Homo sapiens: one gene and its partner. The protein of the gene in region 1 interacts with the protein of each later gene in a pairwise test. Each region holds a gene or a part of one and is shown on either strand. Other genes may lie near its edges.

What was found.
Region 2: the proteins of TENM1 (region 1) and SORBS1 interact in a two-hybrid assay, tested with the Homo sapiens proteins (one study listed by BioGRID).

Annotation. Positions count from the first base shown.
Region 1 is NC_000023.11:124,382,132-124,389,412, reverse strand, and holds part of TENM1 (teneurin-1 isoform 1 precursor), read left to right. Parts: exon of another isoform or gene 1-1,624; intron 1,625-3,348; coding exon 3,349-3,736; intron 3,737-4,558; coding exon 4,559-5,779; intron 5,780-6,600; coding exon 6,601-6,743; intron 6,744-7,281. UniProt on the Homo sapiens protein: Involved in neural development, regulating the establishment of proper connectivity within the nervous system. May function as a cellular signal transducer.
Region 2 is NC_000010.11:95,334,228-95,341,508, reverse strand, and holds part of SORBS1 (sorbin and SH3 domain-containing protein 1), read left to right. Parts: intron 1-98; coding exon 99-224; intron 225-2,181; coding exon 2,182-2,376; intron 2,377-4,214; coding exon 4,215-4,988; intron 4,989-7,281. UniProt on the Homo sapiens protein: Plays a role in tyrosine phosphorylation of CBL by linking CBL to the insulin receptor. Required for insulin-stimulated glucose transport. Involved in formation of actin stress fibers and focal adhesions.

The DNA of each region.
Region 1 (7,281 bases):
GATAAAGAGGCTCGTTCTTGTAGTATATTTTAAACTAAGAATTCTCAAACTTTAAAATGGATTTCTCTTTTTACACCCCAAAATACTCTGGTATTACCTTGTGAATTCGCTTGCCATACCTGTGTCACGATGTATTAAAAAGCAGCAGCAGATTTTTCACCTTAACACGCAGAAATTTTGTGAAAATAGTTTGACTTCTTCTAGAGTAAGTGAAACTTATGCATATCATTTTCATGCACAATGGTTGTAGCCATTAGGAGAAAAATAATTATTTGGGTAATGGCTGTGGTTGCTTAATGATCTCTTCCCTATTAAAAAAATCAATTATTGTTTCTTAAATTTTCTCTATGTGGTCATTAATTCTCTGTCTTGATTTATGAGACTTCTCTGAGTTAATTATATTTTGAAGACTTGTGGGCTAAAATTTTGTATTAGAGTAAATGTAAACCTTTCAGTTTCCTAAAATAATTCTTATGAACTTCATTTTTAAAATGCATTTAAATATATTTTATAATCATTTAATAAGATACTTTAGCCTTATACATTTACAGCAATTGCCTCTTTGGGGCTGACACTTTCAGAGGCTGCCTAGAGAGACAGAACGACGACTTTGGCTTCAGCTTCCAGGTGGCCCCACACTGCCATCTGGTGGTCATTCAAATGCTTTAACTTTTCAAATTTCTGCTCTCATTTCTAGTCTTGTTCAAATAAGCATACAGCCATGATTGCTGTTGCTGTTGTTGTTGCTTTTACAATTATCTCTTTTAGAACCTCACAATCAATTAAAAGAATAAAAGTCTCCCACTCTGTTATTTGGACTAATAAGAAATGGCCTTTTATCCTATAACAGCATTGTGGACATTGGATAGATTCATAAGCACTGTTTTTGAGCAAACTGATAATAATGCCCACCCAAAGTGAAAAAGCAGCCAAATGAGAGCTAAATGGTATTTTGGCAATGTAACAGTTACATTCATTTGATTTCTAATCACATCATCCACATTCTTGCCATTGGCAGGAAGCTTTGAAACAGACTAAGGGCTTTTGAGACAGCCCAGCATCAGCACCACCTAGGAACACGGTTCAGGCAGTGGTTTACTGCAGGCAGGAGGATGGGAACAGAGGAGAGAATAACAACGACGTGCCATAAATACTTGGAAAGGCTGGTACAGTGACTGGAAAAGGCATGGCCCAGGCAGGCTGGTACTAGATAATGTGTGGGGGCCATATGGTGATAGTCCCTGGCCCGTGTCACAGGTGACAGATGTCATTTACTCACAGCAAGTTGACAGAAGAGAGTGGAAAGGAACTGAGAAATGTGACTTTCAGACTAGAGATAATGCAAAAGCTTTTCCACAATTCCTGTACAAAGCTTTTCCACCCCTGCCCCCTGCCACCTGCTTTCCCATTCATAGGAAAATTTCTTGCTGGTTCTATTGAATTCTGCCTTGGTCCAGGGAGGCAGTTCTCCCTTAATGTCTCCAAGCCCATTCAGGATTTCCAAGTCTCCTTCCTTTTGTTCAGGAGGTTTTCAGAGGTCACAGTGGTGGAACTGTAGGCTGTGGCAAGCTGCAGGTTGTCCACAAGTGACGAATTGACAGGATTTCTGCACTCACCTCTGGCTCTGCAGGCGTAATGTTGGTGGAAAAGAAAGAATGAACAAATGAGCAAATAACCACTGACTTTGACTTCATGGTACTGAAATGCAATTCAAAGTCAATAATTCTCAGAAGGGTAGGGAGGATATGCAGTTTCAGAAAGCACATTCAATATTAGAATGTAATGTCATATTTAGAAGATATAAATGTACATTACATATACTTGTGTAATTCACATTCATAAATATTTATATAATTTGTGCTTAGAAAATGAAAATATACCTATTGTTTTCATAACACAAACTTGAATAAATAACCCTCAACTAAATCTCTTTGCTTGAAAAGGTAATTTTCTAAAGGGGAAGGATAAAGCTCCTCTAGGGAGTCATATCAGAATCTCCAAGGATGAGAAATTTTTATTTTTATTAAAAGATGAGATGCACATGTCAGTCAATTAGAGTCCTCCCTAAAACAGTGCTCCTTTTATGTCTGCATTTAGAATTAAAACAAGACAATCAATATTTATGAAACACCTGTTACCTGCATTATACCTCAACAAACAACTGTTTCTAAAATACAGATCAGTTTGGGGGAGAGGGGCTGCATAACCAGAGAATCATTCAGTTTTAATGACATGCTTCCCTAATATTAAAACACAAATGGAAATGTGAAGTTAAAACATCAATTGCAAAACATTAATAGTGCCATAATAATATTTTATGCACAATTTTTAGGAAGACATCTAGTATGTGAAGTCAATCAATACTTTATGATAACTATAAATTAATTTGTGAAATGCCCTGCCATCCATTTACCTTCCTCTGAAACATATGCACGTTGAAGTAACCTTTCTAAAATACCAACTTGACAGTTTCTCCCAGCTTGCAAGTGCCCTCTTGCAACCGTCCCTTAACTTGCTTAAAACCCTTCAAGAGTGCCAGATGCAGTGGCACACATTGGTAGTCCCAGTTACTCAGGAGGCTGAGACAGGAGGATAGCCTAAGCTCAGGAGTTCGAGGCTGCAGTGAGCTATGACTACACCACTGCACTCCAGCCTGGGCAACACCGTGAGACCCTGGCTCTAAAAAAATGAAATAAAATAGAAACCCTTCGATGACTCCCTGTTGCCAACATACTTGAATCCAAACTCCTTAGTGTGGCTTAGAAAGCCTAGCATGATCTGGACTCAGCCTACATAGCTGACGTCATCTCCTGCCATTCCCACCACTCCCAACATACTCAAGTTCTAGCCACACAAAATTTCTCTCATTCTCTGAAAAAGCCGTGTTCTTTTTCATATCCAGACCCTCACAAGGCTGTGCTCTCTGCCAAGAATACTCTTTCCCTACCCCTGCCCCCGGCTCCCTGCCTTCACCTGGACAATCCCTAGGCAATCTTTATGTCTCAACTCAGATGCCACTTTATCCAAGAAGCCTTTTCTGGTCTCTCAAGTCTGAGTAAGCTGGTCTTCCTCTGCCTTCCAGAAGCACTCTGTAACTCCCCTGTCATAACACATTTCACACTATATTGTAATTGCTTGGTTACTTGTCTTTCTCCTCCATTAAAACTGTAAATTTCATGAAGATAGACACCACTATTGTGCACTACTGTATCCACTAGGGTTTGCCACAGTGTCTGGCACACAGTAAGTGCTTGATTGATTTGTGTTGAATGGATGAATGTGTATTTTCTTTAGTCGCCTCAACTTTAGTTGTCCATAATATGCTATTCTGCCTTTGTCTCGTTTCAGTCTGTGATGCTTCTCCTACACAGCCAGCGGCGTTACATCTTTGAGTATGACCAACCAGATTGTCTGCTCTCAGTCACCATGCCTAGCATGGTGCGTCACAGCTTACAAACCATGCTTTCAGTGGGCTACTACCGGAACATCTACACCCCACCGGACAGTAGCACTTCTTTTATCCAAGACTATAGTCGAGATGGCCGATTGCTACAGACCCTGCATCTGGGGACAGGGCGCAGAGTCTTATACAAGTACACCAAGCAAGCAAGGCTTTCTGAGGTTCTCTATGATACCACTCAGGTCACATTAACATATGAAGAGTCTTCTGGAGTGATTAAGACAATACACCTGATGCATGACGGATTCATCTGCACAATCAGATACAGGCAAACAGGTTTGTTGTGAAAGAGTGGTGGTGTGTACAACAACATCACTATTTTCTTATGACATTTTTACTGACCACAGTGTGAGATAGAAGCATTAATCTACACACATTCAACCCAACTTTCACTTTACTTATCAAATTATCTGACATTGAAAATGTAAAGCATGTTATAGTCTGATGAAAGCTGATTTCTTAAAAACATATAGTGCATTTCTTTCTTTCAGCTCTCAAGTAATTTGAAATCCAAGTGCCTAGTGTAACTGTATACCCATTCCTGCTCAGCACCAAATCTTCTCAAAGATGAAACGGCAAGATATAAGTCTCACTGAAACTAGCTCAAGCCCTGTGTAACCTTTATAAGCCTCAGTTGATGACAAAATATCTTCACAAGTCAGAACTTTCTAATGTATTTCACCCTTTGGGTTTATAGAATGCCCAAATCCAGTTACTTTAATGCTGGAATTTGTCAAAACCTGACCCTCTGACTTTGTAGCAAAGGTTAAATGAAATGAAAGCATTTTTGTCAGTGATTATAGCAAGAAGTATCAATTTCATCACCCTGGGCTACTGGATGTGTTATTACTTCTGTAGTTTCTATAATTAAAATTTTCTATAACTATAGAGTATTTTAATTTTTTATATTTGAGGATTACCACTATGAGAATATATATCCATGAGGTAATATGCCCAGGCATTTGATATCAGAGATCAGTCTCTAATATTGTATTATGAATATAAAAGCACCAGTACTAAATAAAATAACACTAGACCTTTCTGACTCTTCCACATTGATCGCCTAGCTTCTTACTGTTTTTGTTTTGGTTCCTGCAGGACCTCTTATTGGACGCCAGATTTTCAGATTCAGTGAAGAAGGCCTTGTGAATGCACGGTTCGACTACAGCTACAACAATTTCCGAGTCACAAGCATGCAAGCTGTAATCAATGAAACCCCTTTGCCTATAGATCTTTACCGATATGTTGATGTCTCTGGCAGAACAGAGCAGTTTGGAAAATTCAGTGTAATTAATTACGATTTAAATCAGGTCATAACTACTACAGTGATGAAACACACCAAAATCTTCAGTGCCAATGGACAAGTCATTGAAGTCCAATATGAAATCCTAAAGGCAATTGCCTACTGGATGACCATTCAATATGATAATGTGGGCCGCATGGTAATATGTGACATAAGGGTAGGAGTAGATGCCAATATAACAAGGTACTTCTATGAATACGATGCTGATGGGCAACTTCAGACTGTTTCTGTAAATGACAAAACCCAGTGGCGTTATAGTTACGATCTGAATGGAAACATCAACCTCTTAAGCCATGGGAAGAGTGCTCGTCTTACTCCTCTCCGATATGACCTCCGAGACCGCATCACCAGATTAGGAGAAATTCAGTATAAAATGGATGAAGATGGCTTTCTGAGGCAGAGGGGAAATGATATTTTTGAATATAATTCTAATGGCCTGCTGCAGAAAGCCTACAATAAGGCTTCTGGCTGGACTGTGCAGTATTACTATGATGGGCTTGGGCGACGTGTCGCGAGTAAGTCCAGCCTAGGGCAGCACCTTCAGTTCTTTTATGCAGACCTTACCAACCCCATAAGAGTTACTCATTTGTACAACCACACAAGCTCGGAGATTACATCTCTGTATTATGATCTCCAAGGTCACCTTATTGCCATGGAGTTAAGCAGTGGTGAAGAATATTATGTAGCCTGTGATAATACAGGTACCCCACTAGCTGTGTTCAGCAGCCGAGGTCAGGTCATAAAGGAGATACTATACACACCTTATGGCGATATCTATCATGACACTTACCCTGACTTTCAGGTCATTATTGGTTTTCATGGAGGACTCTATGATTTCCTTACTAAATTAGTGCACCTGGGGCAAAGGGATTATGATGTTGTTGCTGGCAGATGGACAACGCCTAATCATCACATATGGAAACAGTTGAACCTCCTTCCTAAACCATTCAACCTCTACTCCTTTGAAAATAACTACCCAGTTGGCAAAATTCAAGATGTTGCAAAGTATACCACAGGTATTTAAACTATTTAAAACTTTAAGCTAAACTTGAGTAACTCAGTACTGTTGATTTTATCACAGAATCTCAATGCCTTTGTAAATATGCTTCCTCTTCCTGACAGTTAGCCCGCAAGTTATTGTGCATTTGCTGTCTTCCTTAGTTTTCTAGAGTGAGCAAAACGTGCATGTTAACATATAATACTTTTGCATCCTACTACATTTTTTAGCTGTTTCTGTGTTTTACTCTTACAAGCTTATATGAATAATTTCGTAAAAGAAAAATTCAGGATTCTTGTTTCATCATATAAGCTGATATTATAATCCAGGGTTATCCACAAATCAACACTCTACCCTGTAGAGAGAGGATCAGGTGTTTTAGTGTGGGCCATATAAAGGGGAGTTTTAGGCTGGGTGCGGTGGCTCACACCTGTAATCCCAGCATTGGGAGGCTGAGGCAGGCAGATCACTTGAGGCCAGGAGTTTGAGACCAGCCTGGCCAACATGGTGAAACCCCATCTCTACTAAAAATACAAAAATTAGCACATGCCTATAATCCCAGCTACTCAGGAAGGAGGCTGAGGCAGGAGAATCGCTTGAACCCAAGAGGTGGAGGTTGCAGTGAGCCAAGATTGCACCACTGTACTCCAGCCTGGGCAACAGAGTGAGACTATGTCAAATAAATAAATAAATAAATAAATAAATAAATAAATAGGAGTTTTATTCCTAACTTCTATTGCCTAAACAGTTTGAAGGCAGGAGAGGTATCTTTCAAGTTTTCAACAAAGCTTATAAAGTATGGGATTTTTCATTTTCTTTTTTTAATATTGTGTCTCACAGACATCAGAAGTTGGTTGGAGCTATTTGGTTTCCAATTACACAATGTACTACCTGGATTTCCCAAACCTGAATTAGAAAATTTAGAATTAACTTACGAGCTTCTACGGCTTCAGACAAAAACTCAAGAGTGGGATCCTGGAAAGGTTAGTAAAAGTTTTATCACCTCCTTTTAGCTGAAACAACAGAAGGGCATTCAATACCCAGAAATTATATATACATATGTTTGCTTACTGATTTTTTAGTCTTCTTGAATATTCACTAAAACGTGCACAATTAATGAGAAGGTATAAAAAAAGCTCCATGAGAAAAAAGATCAGAGAATTGGAGTTTTGGGGGAAAAAAAAGATTAACAGGTTACTTGATGACTGCTGCAATAGGTACATAAGAGGAAAGAGGAACTGTACTTTAAAAATTCTGAAATGGGCTACCAAGAGCAATTATGGATTCTACCTAGAGAAAATTGTTCGGTAAGAGACACGAAAACATCAGATTTCCAACTGTAAAATAATTTAGGGGTTGATGTCTTAAGAGCATGGGAATAACAGAATAAAATTATTCTGATAAAGAAAAAATACATAAACACAATGAAGCAAAAATAATAAATATTACAAGGGTACAGTTTTGAGAAAAAATAGGAACATCAAAACATTTAAGATTCAGCAGATGATATCACCAGAAGTA
Region 2 (7,281 bases), on another chromosome or scaffold:
TTATTTACCAAATGCTTATGTTTTGTTTCCTCCTTTTCCTCTTGTTTCCCTGCTTTCTTCTCTTCCCTTGTTCTCTTTTACCTCTTTCCCTTTCTCAGCTTCTTCCTCCTGCTGAGAAGGCACAGCCCAAAAAGTTGACACCAGTGCAGGTTTTGGAATATGGAGAAGCTATTGCTAAGTTTAACTTTAATGGTGATACACAAGTAGAAATGTCCTTCAGAAAGGTAAGCTGCACTTCTCATGCCTTGCTTTGGGGCTCTCTTGGATGGCGCAGCTATGTGGGGAAGCGTGGTGTTGCTATCACACCCCAGTCTGGGGGTGCTGTCTGTACCCTTAAGAGAAGTATGCCAATCAATAATTGCATTAAGGGCTGGGCACGGTGGCTCATGCCTGTAATCCCAGCACTTTGGGAGGCCGAGGTGGGTAGATCACTTGAGGTCAGGCGTTTGAGACTAGCCTGGCCAACATGGTGAAACCCCGTCTCTACTAAAAATACAAAAATTAGCTGGGCATGGTAGTGGGTTCCTGTAATCCCAGCTATTCAGGAGGCTGAGGCAGGAGAATCATTTGAACCTGGGAGACAGAGGTTGCAGTGAGCTGAGATCGCTCCACTGCACTCCAGCCTGGGCAATAGGTCTCCAAAAAAAAAAAAAAGAATTGCATTAAGGCCTGTAATCCCAGCACTTTGGGAAACCAAGGCAGGAGGCTCGCTTAAGGCCAGGGGTTCAAGACCAGCCTGAGCAACGTAGCAAGGCCCCATCTCTACTGAAGAAAAAAAAAAAAAGAATTGCATTAAGGGCAATTGGAGAATTTTCTGAGGTAAGGTATTTTTAAAATAAACCCTAGGCTAATATCAGGGTTTAACTATATTGAGCTCACTGATTAAACATAGTATTTCTGGAGTCTTAGACATCTTTTATAAGCTGTTTTCAACCAACACTTACCAACTAATGATGTCATAATGCATTGTGTTGGGGACTGGGTTTTACAATATATTGGTGTGACCTAGTGGAAAAAACAGGTCCATTGATACCAGGAGAAGTTTGAAAAGCTTTGAACCCAAAAGGCACAAACCAACTACGCAGAATGTGGGAGTTAAATACTTTTTCCAAGCCACCATTTTCTTATAGAAAAAAAATGAAGATAGATGGCTCTCTCCTAGGTGGTTGTAAGAGGCTTCGGTGAAACAACTTATGTGAAGCCCCCAGCATGACACATGGTATCTTGTTGGTGCTTAGTAAACAGGAGATGCCAGTATTATTATTATCACCATCATGCTTATTCAGAACATAATTACATTGTGCAGAGAAGTTGTTCTTTCCAGAATCCAAACACTCTACATGGCAAAATTCTCTGGCTTGCTAAAGTTACTAAGTTACTGATTTTATTGAGGCTTGAGGGAAGTGAGCACATTGTTAGAAAAAGCACTGGAAGCAACCCAGTTGCCCAACAGCAGGGGATCAGTAATTAAATCATTATATGTGTGTGCGACAGAATACCCTGCAGTGGTCCATTAAGCTATGCAATGCCATTAAAAATCTAGAATTCTATTTCTTGATAAAGAAGGAGGTTTACTATGTGCTATTAAGTATTTTTTAAAAAGCAAGTTGGAAAAGGGAAACACAGTTCATACTCAATTTTTATAAGAAAAAATATGTGCAGGTTTAATTCACATGCATAGAAGTAAATCTGGGGAGTCCATATGCCAAATATTAAGTGTTTATCCCCAAATGACTATGTGATGGGTGATGATTGTTTTCTGCTTTACGTTTGTGTTCTGATTTTTCTATAATGATACATTATAAGTATCTATAATGCTACAAAAGAAAGAAAAAGTGAAACCCCCCAAAATCTTTGCCTTAGAAATGAAGATTGGGTATCTGTTTCACATTAAATGAGTCAAAAACACTACATTTGTTCCCTGGCTTAGGGACACAAATCTGATGTTCTCCTTTACTAAAATACTTAAAGAACCAAGCTGAACTTCCCAGCATCAAGATAGCTCCTCTGCCATTAGCATCCTCATCCCAGTGGTGTTAATTCCCTCCAGGTTCAGCAGGGAAGGTTTTTCCTGAGCTAAGGATGTGATAAACAATGCAGGACATTGAAGCATGCAGGCAGAGGCCCCAGGCATGCAGAGGCATGCTAGGACAAGGACCCTCTCTTTGCTGTGTCTTCCAGGGTGAGAGGATCACACTGCTCCGGCAGGTAGATGAGAACTGGTACGAAGGGAGGATCCCGGGGACATCCCGACAAGGCATCTTCCCCATCACCTACGTGGATGTGATCAAGCGACCACTGGTGAAAAACCCTGTGGATTACATGGACCTGCCTTTCTCCTCCTCCCCAAGTCGCAGTGCCACTGCAAGCCCACAGGTATCTAAGCTTCTCGTCACTGGTTTTCATACTCAGCATGTGAATTTTTGTAGTCAACAGTGCTGATGGCACACAGCCTCTCTGGGGAGGTTTTTGAGCACTGCAATTAAAAACTGTCTGCAGGAGGCCGGGTGTGGTGGCTCATGCCTGTAATCCCAGCACTTTGGGAGGCCGAGGCGGGTGAATCACCTGAGGTCAGGAGTTCAAGATCAGCCTGGCAACATGGTGAAACCCCATCTCTACCAAAAATTCAAAAATTAGCCAGGCGTGGTGGCGGGCGCCTGTAGTCCCAGCTACTCGGGAGGTTGAGGCAGGAGAATCGCTTAAACCTGGGAGGCAGAGGTTGCAGTGAGCCGAGATCATGCCACTGCACTCCAGCCTGGACGACAGAGCGAGACTCCATCTCAAAAAAAAAAAAACTGCAGGAAAGCAGACTGTACACTGGACTTTGTCTTTATGCATACAAATGGCCTTTTCCAGTGCTTGGTTGCAGATATATCTCAAGGGAAAAGGAATAGTCAAGTAATTGCTCTGGGAATAAGGTGACTAGGGAAAGAGAAACAGAGAAACAAGAGCCTTTATCAGTTGGCCCCTCTTGGGTGAAGCTGTTGGTGTGGGTACCACCACTGTGTCATAAATCCCATGGTCCAAATGCGGTCCTCAGTCATCTTGGCCAAAGTTGACCTGCAGAAGACAAAGGCTGAAAGAGAGACTTACACCTTCTCATCAGCCATATAGACCAGATCCAAAGTATTATTTGCATTCACTGGAACCAGGTGATTGGAACAAGTAACTTACAGCATCTCAGTCTCTGTGGGCTGAAAGGATATAGGTTTATAGGCGTAATAAGATGTTGGCTTTCCCAAACATTAATTATGAACAAACTTGTTTAGAAATATAAACTATTCCTAACTGATCCCCACTTTCCCAAAGCCAAGAAAATGTCAGAACCTTGAGTTCAGGGTGACACGGTGGGGGTGACATCCCTGTGAAAGAGCCTGGACAAACCACCATGTATGTTGTAAGGAGGTTGGCAGAGGAACAAGAGTAGGACCTGGGGGCCCAGGTTGACCCTGAGATGGTGCCTCTTGTCTGGTCCTCTAATTGTTTCCTCCTCTGCCACCTGCTCATCACTGACCCCAGTAGAGGGTTCTTGGCAGAAAGCATTAAACGGGCTGACCCAGGGCTTCCTGGACAGTGATAGCCGCATCCTGTTGTCTTATAGGACAGAGTGTGTGACTGGAGTGGGACATTCTTCTTTGTAAGGATGCAGGGAACTCAACTACATTTTTCACTTGACTAGCCAAGAGTGATTGTAAAACAAAACTAGTACACTACTCATACTCCTCTCTGGAAGACTCTGCTGAGCTCCCAGAGAAAATAAAACCCCAGGGAAGGGCCATGGCAGTGTGGGGCCACCTTTCCCCGTATGGTTCCGGGTCAGGGATCTGGATGCACAGGGGCTGGGTTGGCTGGGATGGGGAGCTTCCAATGTGTCCCTTTGAAAATCTGATTCTGCAAAGCAGGGCGGCCTCATCCGTCACTACTCTGACGGGAACCTCTCCCCATCTCCACACCTCTCACTGCTTCCTCCACCCCCTGCCTGCACACATCAGGATCACGCTCGCACATGCTCAAACGCACACTCACCCATCCTGGTTTCTCCCCAGATGTAACCTGAGGATTTCCTTTTTGGACACCAGAGTGTCCTTGCTCATCCTCTCCATTTCATTCCTCTTTATATACCCCTTGTGATTATTTTCCTTCTTTTTCCTTTATGCTGACACTTGTACCTTTTGCTTCTTTCTTTTGTTTTCCTCTCTTTTCTTCTTTTTAAGTTTTCCAGTCACAGCAAGCTCATCACGCCAGCCCCCTCATCTCTGCCCCACTCCCGCCGAGCCCTGTCCCCCGAGATGCACGCTGTCACCTCTGAGTGGATCTCACTGACTGTGGGGGTCCCAGGCAGGCGTTCTCTGGCCCTGACCCCACCCTTGCCTCCTCTGCCAGAGGCTTCTATCTATAACACTGACCACCTCGCCTTGTCACCAAGGGCCAGTCCCTCCCTGTCTCTCAGCCTCCCCCATTTGAGTTGGTCAGATCGTCCCACCCCACGATCAGTAGCTTCTCCACTGGCCCTACCTTCCCCACACAAAACCTACTCCCTAGCACCTACTTCCCAGGCCTCCCTTCACATGAATGGAGACGGTGGTGTCCACACGCCATCTTCAGGCATCCACCAAGATAGCTTCTTGCAGCTGCCGCTGGGGAGCTCTGATAGTGTCATCTCCCAGCTTAGTGATGCCTTTAGCAGCCAGAGCAAGAGGCAGCCATGGCGCGAAGAGAGTGGACAATATGAGAGGAAAGCAGAGAGGGGGGCAGGCGAAAGAGGCCCTGGTGGACCCAAGATCTCTAAGAAGAGCTGCTTGAAGCCTTCAGACGTGGTCAGGTGCCTGAGTACTGAACAGAGACTCTCAGATCTCAACACCCCTGAGGAGAGCCGGCCCGGCAAGCCCCTGGGTAGCGCTTTTCCAGGAAGTGAGGCTGAGCAGACAGAGCGGCATAGAGGTGGCGAGCAGGCGGGGAGGAAAGCTGCTCGGAGAGGTGGGAGCCAGGTAGGACTGCAGCATGCCGCGTGTGCACTTGGCGTCTCACTTGGCAGGGTGGGCTGCACGTCTCGCCCCTGGTCCATCTACGGAGGCCAAGTGAATGCTGGTGAGACCATTTGCTTGCCTCAGGAGCAAAGAGATGGCCCCAGAGGGAATGGGAGGACATGAATTCAGGTGCCAGGACTGGATACAGTTGGAGGGAAAGGACAGGCTATATCTGGCCACTTGAGGTCATTTGGAAGTTATCTCTACTTTGAATGCCTCCTGGCCTGCTGCAAGGGCCTCTGAGAAGGCAGACCTTCCTCACATCCCATGTATGCCTTAGAGATGACCCTCAGTTTGCTTTGACTAACACAGCTGAGAACACCAGGCTTTGGTGTGGTGTGGTTTGCTTTTATGTAAGATGCACTTTGTTTCCATAACCCATGGTGCTCTGCTAGTGCTCGGCTCTGTCAGGTCTTTGTCCTGTCTCGTGTTTGTGTGGGAGCGCGGGGCCTTTGTTTGCTATGAAACAAAGGTGTTTTGGTTCTGGAGAGGAGAATGCAGGTCTCCTGGGGCCCTGACTGACATGGGGTATCCTCGAATAGCCATGCCAGGTTTTGGGGTGAGTGTACCATCTTCTCTCTGGGTCAGCTACAAAGACCCAGAGAGCATTTGGACAAAGGTAGCCTTAGGGTGTTTTGAGACCTGAAAATTTTTTTGGAGAAATGAACTTAGCAACTAAACAAATCACAATTCTGATTTTGGCTATGCTGTTGACTACTGCGAAAGTCAAAGACTTTCGGCAACTTCTCAGAAGCAACCAGGTTTGAATGCCAGCTCCACCTCTTACAGTCTAGTGACTTGGGAGTTGCTTCCCCTGTCTGAGACTCAGTTTCCTCATCTGTAAAATGGAGATGATAGCACCTACCTCAAAGAGTGGTTGATTACAAGGGCTTATGATCCTGGGAACATGGTCAGCACTTTATAAACGGAAGCTATAGAGCCACCATCTTGGGTGATCTAGAATTGCTTCTAGAACTGAGAATATTTTTAGAACTTCCTTAGACCCAGATTGAGTTCCTGAAGATGTCTCCAAGCCATTTATTAAGTATCTAGTATGTCTGATGTCCACAGTAAATAGTGCTTAACCCTTAGGCTTGCAACCTCAGTTTCCCTTTGAGGCTGTAGTTATTCAGTCTATGAATAAGGCCTGCAGGTACCAGCCTCTGGGCAGAATACAAAGGTCATTTGTCTCTCCTCTTGAGAACCCTAAGTTCAAGGCTCCTCAAAACAAGGAGGAGCCTAGCAATATCACCAGGGCAATAATAGAGGCATGCTTGGGGGACACAGGAGCACAGAGGCTTGAGACACACTAGGCCAGACTTCCAGCTCCAGCCAAGCACATGTGGGCCCATGGGTGGGCCAGCACATCAGGAGTGGGGATCACTGAGGGTGAGCCGGCATGGGGCAGTTTATAAGAAATCAGGCTTAGCCTTTTGCTAGAAAGCCACTTAACCTCTCACATGCTAAGCAGGAGTGGAAGCAGTCCATCCCTTGTAGGGCAGTCATAAGGATTCAGTGAGGTAATTCATGGAAGTCGGTGCTTGGCATGTGCCAAGGCTCCATATGTGGGGTCACCCGCTGCTGTGGAGGGCTGTAGGAAAGCAGTAATACCTGGCAAAGGCTTTGCCTGGCCCTGGAACAGGTTGAGGAAGGAATAGAAGAGATGGTGAAGTGGCTAGTTGAAAAGAATTAAACGTTTCTGACACAGGAACAATTCTATAAACATTCTAAGTCAACCCAAGGCACCCGGGGACATCCTTATCGTCAGTGTTGAGTCATCATCCCGGCCCAATTCCAGGATCCTGTGTGTATAGGAAGTGCGCACGGTGCCGGATCTCCGAGTAAGGTTAGGGGTATACGCTTCCTGCTTCCTAAGGCAGGATAGGAGGGGAGTAGCTGGCAACACTGAAGATTATGTTGATTGGAAAGCCAGGCTTGTTGAAACTTGGTGTTCCTTTCTTGGTGGGCCTCCAGACCCCAAGTGTACCACTTCCTGTCCCCTCCCTTCCTCCTGCCCTCCTGGCACAAGCCCCTTCTCCATGGGTGTGCACAGGCTGTGGCCTGGGGCTCGCTCCCCCTTGAGAGCTGGCATTTGTGTGAAAAGGGCTGCTGCCCACACCTCCCCTTCAGCCCCCTCACTTTCCCCTCCTGTGGCTGGAGCAGGAGCTGACAACTCTGGAAACGGGGTCCTTCAGAAGGGGCTCCTGTGTCTTGGGCCCCCTTTGGGTGACAGACATGCTAAAAATGGGAAGGA